3 separate regions of the Homo sapiens genome follow, and regions 1 and 3 are each reported to be linked to region 2. The links are microRNA targets in miRTarBase. Many come from high-throughput screens and were not tested one by one. Region 2 holds a microRNA gene; each other region holds the end of a gene's coding sequence.
What was found. Region 2 holds the annotated microRNA hsa-miR-1255b-2-3p (AACCACUUUCUUUGCUCAUCCA, at 2,119-2,140, shown strand). A microRNA usually pairs through its seed, bases 2 to 8, with sites in the 3' UTR of a target mRNA and lowers its output. Matches are read on the target gene's strand: a 7mer-m8 pairs with bases 2 to 8, a 7mer-A1 pairs with bases 2 to 7 and ends in A, and an 8mer does both.

Region 1: miRTarBase lists TBC1D22B as a target of hsa-miR-1255b-2-3p. Seed matches in the 3' UTR shown: 7mer-m8 at 825-831.
Region 3: miRTarBase lists ZNF75D as a target of hsa-miR-1255b-2-3p. Seed matches in the 3' UTR shown: 7mer-m8 at 758-764 and 8mer at 1,510-1,517.

The regions. Positions count from the first base shown.
Region 1 is chr6:37,330,707-37,333,706 of GRCh38, reverse strand. It overlaps TBC1D22B (TBC1 domain family member 22B), which reads right to left. Exons shown (of 13, transcript NM_017772.4): 13 at 737-2,663. The coding sequence ends at 2,535. LOC105375040 (a long non-coding RNA gene) reads left to right here. Exons shown (of 4, transcript XR_007059566.1): 4 at 559-637. Among named protein-coding and RNA genes, the nearest start is that of RNF8, 22 kb to the left of the region's middle.
Region 2 is chr1:167,996,581-167,999,937 of GRCh38, forward strand. It overlaps MIR1255B2 (microRNA 1255b-2), which reads left to right and starts at 2,080; the gene lies at 2,080-2,146. The region is part of intron 7 of DCAF6 (DDB1 and CUL4 associated factor 6); the gene reads left to right.
Region 3 is chrX:135,284,507-135,287,863 of GRCh38, reverse strand. ZNF75D (zinc finger protein 75D) reads left to right here. Exons shown (of 7, transcript NM_007131.5): 7 at 18-2,073. The coding sequence ends at 727. Among named protein-coding and RNA genes, the nearest start is that of ETDC, 23 kb to the left of the region's middle.

The DNA of each region.
Region 1 (3,000 bases), not on the chromosome of region 2:
CCTATTTTTGGTTTTTATTACACATAGCTGAATTTAATTTTTATGTGGTTCCTAATGACTGAAACCAAGAAATACTCTCAAATAAATCCTAGGAAGGAATTCTGGGTGGAGAAACCATTCCAACCTGTCCTTTGTAGATGAAATGTAATCAGCTACCTTTCTTGAGATATTTCACAGTAAGGTTACCAAGAAAAAAAAAACAACAGCTGACAACCGAAAAAAGACTTAAAGACAATCCTACATGGCGGCCATCTTAGTTCTTTCTACTCTGGTGGAAACACACTGAACAGGCAAGCCAGGAGGACACCGGGTCTCTGGTTCTGACTCTGATGCTGTCTTCCTTGGCCTTGGCTTGGATTTTCCTCTGCGAATGAGGGGGTTAAACTAGATATCTCCAAGTTTTCATCCAGCACTGAAATTCTAGTCTGTTTTCTACCCTCTATCAGATAACATACTTCTTTTAGATGAATGAAATAATCCATGTAAAGTGCTTCTCAAAGTGGTTGGCAAGTTAACTCTTTTTAGTAGTTTCATTTACCAAGTTACTCATTTTTGTAGTTTCCACAGTACCTTTCATAGATGGATGTCGGGTAAGTGTTTGCTGGTTGATCCTCTGCTGATGCCCTGCTCACCTCACAGAAGGCCTGACCACACACCTACTAGTATCAGCAAGAAAAACTCAAAAAGAGGAGACTCTTTAGGTTCCATGGACACATACAGGAGAAAAACCAGCAGATGGAGGAGGAAATACACCATTTATTTACAATTCTTTTCACTTTATCCACAATTTCCCATACAAACATAAAAACTAAAAAAATAAAACCACCACTTGGGAACACAAGTGTCTTTCTTTAATTAGTCCGGTTGAGGGAGGGTCTCAAGCCCTCTCACTCTATGAAGGAGACCACTGAGGCACACCGAAGGGGAAAAGGAAGAGGGTTGGGAAGAATGCCTGAGAAACAGCTCCAGATGAGAAACCTAACTCACACCGATGTGGTGGGGCCTCACTGGCAAAGAGACTTGAGGGTGTTACCCACCAGGGACACTGCTCGGCTTCCCAGGAGGATGACAGCTGCTGGCCCCCATCCCCCCACCCTCCACTACCAAATACCAAAACTCAAACAGGGGTCACACATCTCATGAGCTGTGTGGGGAGTGAAGGTGACAGTAAGGGATATGGAGTGCTGCTCTCTGAGAAGAGCCCCAAACCCGAGGGACACACAAGAAGCCCCTTTCCTTGGCACTGAGTCTTCAGTCACAGCTTCTGTCCGAATACAATGCTGAACTTGAAAACGTAAAAACAAAAGCCCTCCCCAGATTCCGGGGAAGGTGGGGATAAAAACACATAGAGAGGGCTTGCCCGCCTCTGCAGTCCCTTCCTGGGGAGGCTGCTAGGAGCAAAGGGCAGATGCTCCAGGAAAGTCTGGGGGTTGGGGGGCGGGGTGAAGAAAGGGGCGAGGAGGACTCTGAGACACTGATGCTTGGGATGGCTCCAGCTGCTCAGCTACTCACTTCAGCAGCCTCCCGTTCTACCCCTCACAGCAGGACACCCAGAACCAACCTGGAGGTGCTGAAGCCACCTTCCTGGCAACTTCCTCTGTGCTAGTGACCTAGATTGCTTTCACATGTTGATGCACATTATAAATATAAAATCATATCTGCTACAAAGAGGACATATATTTGTACATCTTTACCCATATACATAATAACACAATTTACACATAATATCTTGGAGTGGGTCATCATGGAAAAGGGGTCTGGAGAGCCCCTTCTGCCTCCCCTGCCCCAATCCCTCTTCAAGGGATGCTTATACACTTGGTCACTGGGGCCCTTCCCAACTAGTTTGATGGGGCTCGTCTGGACACAGAAATTCAGACATGTGACTAAATGCTGATGGGCATGTATACACATTCACACCCACACACACATGCAGACACCTGGTGAGAAAAGGAAAAATAAAATTCCTAGCCCTTGGGTGTAGGCCTCTTTCCAGAGTTACAAGCATCAGTGCCTCCTCCATCTAGAATAATGGTTTTAAAAAGCTACCCCTCACTGGCTCAGACTGGGGCAGAAGGGGAACGGCTAGGAAACCAGGAAGAGGGAAGAGGGGCCAGGAGTCTTTCGAAAATATAAGGCGTTTTTGACCTGTGATCAAATCAAACTATGTTCACAAAAAAAAAAAAGCAACGGTTATCAGTTGGGGCCTGTCCTTGTAGGGACAATGTGAGGTGAGACCCTGAGCCTTCCCCTTCTTTGTCCAGTTTCTTTTAAAGGGGCAGACAACCCTGTACCACCTTTTCTGTCCTCTCCCAGAACTGGGCCCATCCACGCGGCATGGAATACTGACAGTGGTCCAAGTGACACATCCAGAGACATGGAGTGGTGGATGCCAGAAAGTTAAGACCTGGGCGGTGGGTGTGAGCTTTGTACAACAGGAGTGGTTCCTGGCCGGGGTCCACGGCTCGCACAGTGGCCACAGTGATCAGACTGCCATCAGAGATGAAGGCAGTCTGGGTCCCCGGAGGAGACAGCACCTATCGGCGGTAGTGATTTGGGGCATCGGCAAACATGTACTTGAGTCTGTATGCCTCGGCGAGAAGCAGCCCAATTTCTTCGTTGCCCCAGTGTATTGTAGGTAGGTTCTGTAGCAGCATGAGGAGACCCTGGAATGCAAGAAAGGACTTTTATATCATACCAGACCGTAGACCATCAGACAAGTGAACCCATTCTTAGAGACCAAGGCCTAGAATGGGGCCCCTTCCTCCTGGCTCACACATCTCAAAGAGTCCAGCCTCCTTCCTCCCAAACAGTACACAGCTTTCAGTCCTAGTTCACCTCAGGAGGTCTTGAAAGCCTCTGCTGATTCTCTAGTCCACTAACACCTGTCTCTTTAAAAACATAAAAAACATAAATAGGGAATGACAACAATAAAGATTTTTAAGAGAGAAAAATAATCACTTATCCAAATATACCTCTCTTAATCTTAAAGTATTCATTTTC
Region 2 (3,357 bases):
AAGTTAAATCATGCCGCTCTTCTCATCAACATTCTAAGTGGCTCCCTGTCGGACCTAAAGCAAAACTGAAGTCCTTATGGTGGCTTCAAGATCTTATATTATCTGGTCCTAATTATTACTTCTACTGTTTTCTTCTTTACTGTGCTCTAACCACATCTACTTGCTTAGTAACTCAGGCCAAGCATGACTCTATTTTAGGATTTTGCATTTACTCTGCCTGAAATGCTCTTCCCTGGATACCTGGATTTTTTCTTCCCTGTGTATTTCAGGTCTTTGCTTATGTAACCTTCTTGGTGAAGCCCTACTTCACCATCCTATTTAAAATCACGGCCTTTAACTGATACTACCTATCCCCTTTTCTACTTTATTTCTCTCCATAACAGTAACTTTCTATGTATATTTTGCTTTTTCATTTCATGTGTTGTTTGCTCCATCGGGCTGTAAATTCTGTGACATTGGGGATTTTTTGTGTGTTTTGTCCATTGTTGTTTTCCAATACCTGTAATAGTACCTGACATATAAAAGGTGCTCAAAAAATATTTGGTGAATGAAACGCCATTTTCAGTATTCTTGCCTAGGTTATTTCACATACTCAGAAAGTCAAATTTGAGATTGTTTTTAATTTGAAGATTTTATTCTATAAATAATTGCTGAGGTTGTAAAACCAGTTCTTTGGCTATGTAATATAAAAATTCCTCTCTGTTGAAACCATGAAGCAAGATTCTATTATATTGTTTTAAGAATAGTTCGTATGAAGGATGAAGCCCTCTCCTTTTGGGAGTGATTAGTTGTTTGAGAATTTGCACAGCTGCCACATTAAGCTTTGTTCTGGTTATTCCCTGTCACACACTTACGTCTTCCTGTGTAGATTTTACTATTCTCAGTTGCCTTTAGCCATACTTACACATAATATGGAATTTATGGGGATTTTTTTTTCTGTCTCCTTTGCTCAGGATGCAAAGATTTTTTTCTATTCATGTTACTAGGTATGGTTTCCAGAAGAAATCAGAAAATTCACTGTTAAGTGTCACCAAGTTTTTATCAAAACCTGTTTAATTTTCAGGAAAAAAAAATCAATGAATGCTGTTTTTAAAAAATAAATAAAAATAAAAAGAGTGACCCACAGGATGGGAGAAAATGTTTTGCAGATCATGTGTCTGGTTACAGTTTAGTATCCAGAATGTATAAGGAACACTTACAGTGCAACAATAAAAAGACAAATATCCAAACTTAAAAATAGGTAAAGGATTTGAATATATAATACTTTTTTTTCCCCAGAGAAGACATATAATAGAAATGGCAATAAGTACATAAGGAGATACTCAACGTTATTAGTCCTCAGGGAAATGCAGATCACAACCACAGTGAGATATCACTTCATACCCACTAGGATGACTAAAATAAAAAAGACAGACAATAACAAGTTTTGACAAACATGTAGAGAAATTGGAACCCTCAAAAAATTAGAGTTATTATATGAGCCATACTTCTCCTCCCAGATATACAGGCTTCTCTTGGAGATATTGCAGGTTTGGTTCTAGACCATTGCAATAAAGTAAATATTGCATTAAAGCAAGTCACACAGATCTTTTGGTTTCCCAGTGCATGTAAAAGTTATGTTTATACTGTACCATAGTCTGTTAAGTGTGCAATAGCATTATATCTTAAAAACCAATGTATATACCTTAATTTAAAAATACTTCATTGCTAAAAAGTGCTAACAATCATCTGAACCTCAGTAAGTTGTATTCTTTTTGCTGGTGGAGGGGCTTACCTTAATGTTGATCACTGCTGACTGATCAGAGTGGTGGTTGCTGAAGGTTGGGGCTGTGACAGTTTCTTGAAATAAGACATCAGTGAAGTTTCTGCATCGATAGACTCTTCCTTTCATAAAAGATGTATTTGTAGCTTGTAACGGTGTTTGATAGCTTCTTACACACAATAGAACTTTTCTCCAAATTGGAGTCAGTCCTTTCAAACCCTGCTGCTGCTTTATCAACTAAGTTTATGTAGTACTCTATAATAGATCCTTTTGTTGTCATTTCAGCAGTGTTCACAGCATCTTCACTAGGAGTTGCTTCTTACGGATGAGCAAAGAAAGTGGTTTGCGCCTCAAGAAACCACTTTCTTTGCTCATCCATAAGGAGCAACTCCTTATCTGTTAGTTTTATCATGAGATTGCAACAATTCTCACACCTTCAGTCTGTACTTCTAATTCTAGTTCTTTTGTTGTTTTCACCTCATCTGCAGTGACTTCCTCTACTGAAGTCTTCTACCCCTCAAAGTGATCCACTAGGGTTGGAATTAACTTCTTCCAAACTCCTGTTAATATTGTTATTTTGACCTCCCACGAATCACAAAAGTTCTTAATAAGGCATCTAGAATGGTCAATCCTTTCTAGGTTTTCAGTTGACTTTTCACAGATCCATGAGAGGAATCACTATCTGTGGCAGCTATAGCCTTACAAAATGTGTTTCTTAAATAAGACCTGAAGGTTGAAATTACTCTTTGATCTATGGGATACAATGAAAATGTTAATCTCCATGTACATCTCCATCAGAGCCCTTGGATGACCAGGTGCATTGTCAATGCCCAGTAGTATTTTGAAAGGAATCTTTTTTTCTGAGCAGTAGGTCTCAATAGTGGGCTTCAAATAGTCAGTAAAACATGCTGTAAAGAGATGTGCCCTCATCCAGGCTTTGTTATTCCATTTATAGAGCAGATTCAATTAAACATAATTCTTAAGGGCCTTAGGATTTTCAGAATGGTAAATGAGCATTGGCTTCTGCTTAATGTCACCACTGCATAAGCCCCTAACAAGAGAACCAGCATGTCCTTCGAAGCTTTGAAGGCAGGCATCAGCTTCTCCTCTCTAGCTGTGAAAGTCCTAAATGGCATCTGCTTCTGATAGAAGGCTGTTTCATTTGCATTGGAAATCTGTCGTTTAGGGTAGCCACTTTGATCAATTATCTTAGCTAGATCTTCTGGATAACTTGCTGCAGCTTCCACATCAGGACTTGCTGCTTTACCTTGTACTTTTATGTTACAGAAAGACAGCTTCTTTCCTTAAACTGCATGAACCAACCTCTGTTAGCTTCAGACTTTTATTCTACAGCTCCCTTACCTCTAACAGTTTTCATAGCTTTAAAGAGATTTAGCGCCTTGCTCTGGGTTAGGCTTTAGCTTAAGGGAATGTGATGACTGGTTTGATCTTCCTTCTAGACCACTCAGACTGTTTCCATATCAGTAATAAGGCTGTTTCGTTTTCTTATCATTCATATGTCCACTGGAGTAGCACTTTTCTAAAAGTTCCTTCCAGAACTTTTCCTTTGCATTTACAAATTTGCTAACTGTTTG
Region 3 (3,357 bases), not on the chromosome of region 2:
TCTGTTTATTCTAACAGGGTTAAAGCTAAAAAATGACACTGGAAATGATCATCCTATATCTGTTTCTACATCAGAAATACAAACATCAGGATGCGAAGTATCAAAAAAGACCAGAATGAAAATTGCCCAGAAAACAATGGGCAGGGAAAATCCTGGTGATACACACAGTGTACAGAAATGGCATCGAGCTTTTCCAAGGAAGAAAAGAAAGAAACCTGCAACTTGTAAACAAGAGCTTCCAAAACTTATGGATCTTCATGGGAAAGGCCCCACAGGGGAGAAACCTTTTAAGTGTCAGGAATGTGGGAAAAGCTTCAGAGTTAGCTCTGATCTTATTAAACACCACAGAATTCACACTGGAGAGAAACCCTATAAATGTCAACAATGTGACAGGAGGTTTAGATGGAGTTCAGATCTTAATAAGCACTTCATGACCCATCAAGGAATAAAACCATATAGATGCTCATGGTGTGGGAAAAGCTTTAGTCATAACACAAATCTACACACACACCAAAGAATTCACACAGGAGAGAAGCCCTTTAAATGTGATGAATGTGGAAAAAGATTCATTCAGAACTCCCACCTTATTAAACACCAGAGAACTCACACAGGTGAGCAGCCTTATACGTGTAGCTTATGCAAGAGAAACTTTAGTAGGCGATCGAGCCTTCTTAGACACCAGAAACTCCACAGAAGAAGGGAAGCATGTCTAGTGTCTCCAAACTGAGGAAAGTTACCATGTAGAGCTTGACTTTAGAAGTGGTGAAAGAATACAAAATTATGAGGCACCCAATGATAGGAATCTGTGATTAATAAAACATTTGGGAAGGGTACATGTTACACTTCACAAAAAGGAATCTAAGCTGTCTGTTTTATTCAGCATTGCATCTTCTGTGCCTAGCACAAGAGTTGATACATAAGGAGTACTTTATAAATAAAAAAATGAAAGTGTAGTGATGAGATTCCTTTAGCTATCTATCTATATGTATATATCTGGTTATTCAAAGCTTCCCCACCCCCAGTCATCTAAATTTTTCAGGTATCAAGTGCTCAACAGACATATGATAGTCAAGGCTCTTAGTCTCATTTTTTACTCTTTGTCAAGAGAAATGGAAAATAAGAGTACTTGGGCCCTCTTAAGGGAGCTCAGAGAGAATTACTAAATTAGGGACAGTTTCAATAGTTATCATTCTGTCTACATGAACAATCAAGACCAGGACTCAGGGAACTTTACTCTGTAACAGAAAGAGAGGATTCAGTGTTTGCCCTGGGAGAATTGTCCCATTCTTGTTGCTTCTCTCCTGAGTACCCACTACCACAATGTCTTCTGTCAAGGAATTACAAGTAGCAAGGGAAGGTCTGAATGTAAGGACAGGCCTAGGGACCTTGCAAGCACTTGATATCTCTCCTCTTGCTGACTTTGTCAACATAGACATATAGTGAAATGATGAGGGAGGCAGTCTTGGCCCTCATCCAGGTATCTGGTTTTTTTTTGTAGAAAGCACAGATAAGTGGTAAATGGTCTTTTTCTGACTTTCATTATGTGGACTGGATGGAGGCTTTCAAACTGGTGCCATACTGCTGCAGGACCTAAAGGGAGCCCCATCTTTATGGCTGATCAACTACAACCCTATATGCCTGAATACTCTGCAAGAAGGCCTGGAGATTTTGCAAAACTGATTTATTGAGAATGGCAAGGAGAGCCTTGTGAACTTTTAGCTTTGGTGCACAGCTGATACCAGGAGGGAACATCCTGAAGTGTCAGAGAAAAGTAAGGCATATGGCTCACAGTGATGATGCCAGTCAGAGCCAGGCCAGATGGAAATTGTTTTCTGATGTTACTGGTTTTCTTTTCCCTATTAGCCAAAGTGACTATCTCTTAAGAGAAGATAATGTGACGTCAAGGGAAGTTGGAAGGCATGGATTTATATCTATGTCAGATCCTGGTTTATAATGTTGGCCAAGGCTTATTTATATATGTTTATTTAGTATTCCATAAAATTGTACTTCGTAATGAAAATGACACATTTTATCTTAAATTTAGACAATAAACAAAACTTTGTTACCAAATCACTCAGAAATGGCCAATGTTTGCTTTTTTGAAATGGATGTCTTCAGATATTTTTTCCACCAAGAGACCGTTCTAAGCCTGTTTCCAAATTTATAAAATGAGGATTATAATTCCTACTTCTTAGGGCTACTGTGAGGATTAAATGCACACATGTGAGCATGTCTGACACAATGATTGGCCACATTTGGTGTTTCCTAAACATTTGGAACTTTCTTCATTCTTCCTTCACCTAGTTATTTAGAAAAGAAAATAAGCTTTGTCTACTTGCCCAGCTTTTAAGCATTCTTCATTAATGAGTTTTCCATCATTTCTAGCTGGTTTTTAGGCCCACTAATGATGGTCAGAATGGTAGCCTTCTGGCATGACATTCATTTGGTTCTAGAGGTGCTCCTCTCTAGTCAGCCTGAAACAATACACTGATGTCCCAATTCAGCTAGCTATACTGCTCATGAGTAACAAAACCAAAATATACTACAAACCCTCAACTTGAGATTCCTGAAAATGGAGGGGAGGTGATGGCTAGGGGTGGAATTTTTGTGGACAGTATTTATGCTACTAGGTGCATCCTCAAGCCAATAAAGTAGAAATGAAAGAGGAAAGAGGTGACTGCACATAATGGCGACTAAAAAGAATGAAAGTGCTAAGCCAAAAGGAGGAAGTGACCTGGGAGGAAAGGATCTCATATTCCCAAAGGCTTGGAGACTATGACTGCCTCACCACCCCTCCTCCTAGAATGATCTGAGATTGTGCCCTTGAAACTAAAATGGGAAATTCAAATTCCTGCAGGGGACTCCATTCTCTTTGTGTGAATCCATGTTTGCTAGCATCCTGGATAGCTGCTATCATACCACCATTCAAATAAATTTATTCATGTAGCTTTTATAAAGAAGGGAGGTTAACTAAAAAATTCAAGGATGTACTAGGTCAATGGACCCAGCAGTTATACTCATGAGAATCAGCAAAGTCCCCCAGAACAAGTCAGCAAAAGAGCACTCCACTTTCCTAAAGCTGCTTACCCCTGTTATAATACCTGTTACCTTCAAAGCTTATCGTGCAGGTCCTCATCTACACTGGCATCATTATCAGCAGGGTTTGAGAGCAGGGAACATGGGTTCTATTTGAGAGATCAATTATTTAAGGCAAGTGGCAGGAAGTGACTGCCTTTAGATGGGTCTGAGCAGAAACAGAGAACTGGGATTTGTTATTCCAAGTTCAGATACTCCACCATCATTTGAATACAAGGGCCCCAGGAAAAAGCACATTCTCATCCCTGAGGTTGTGGAACA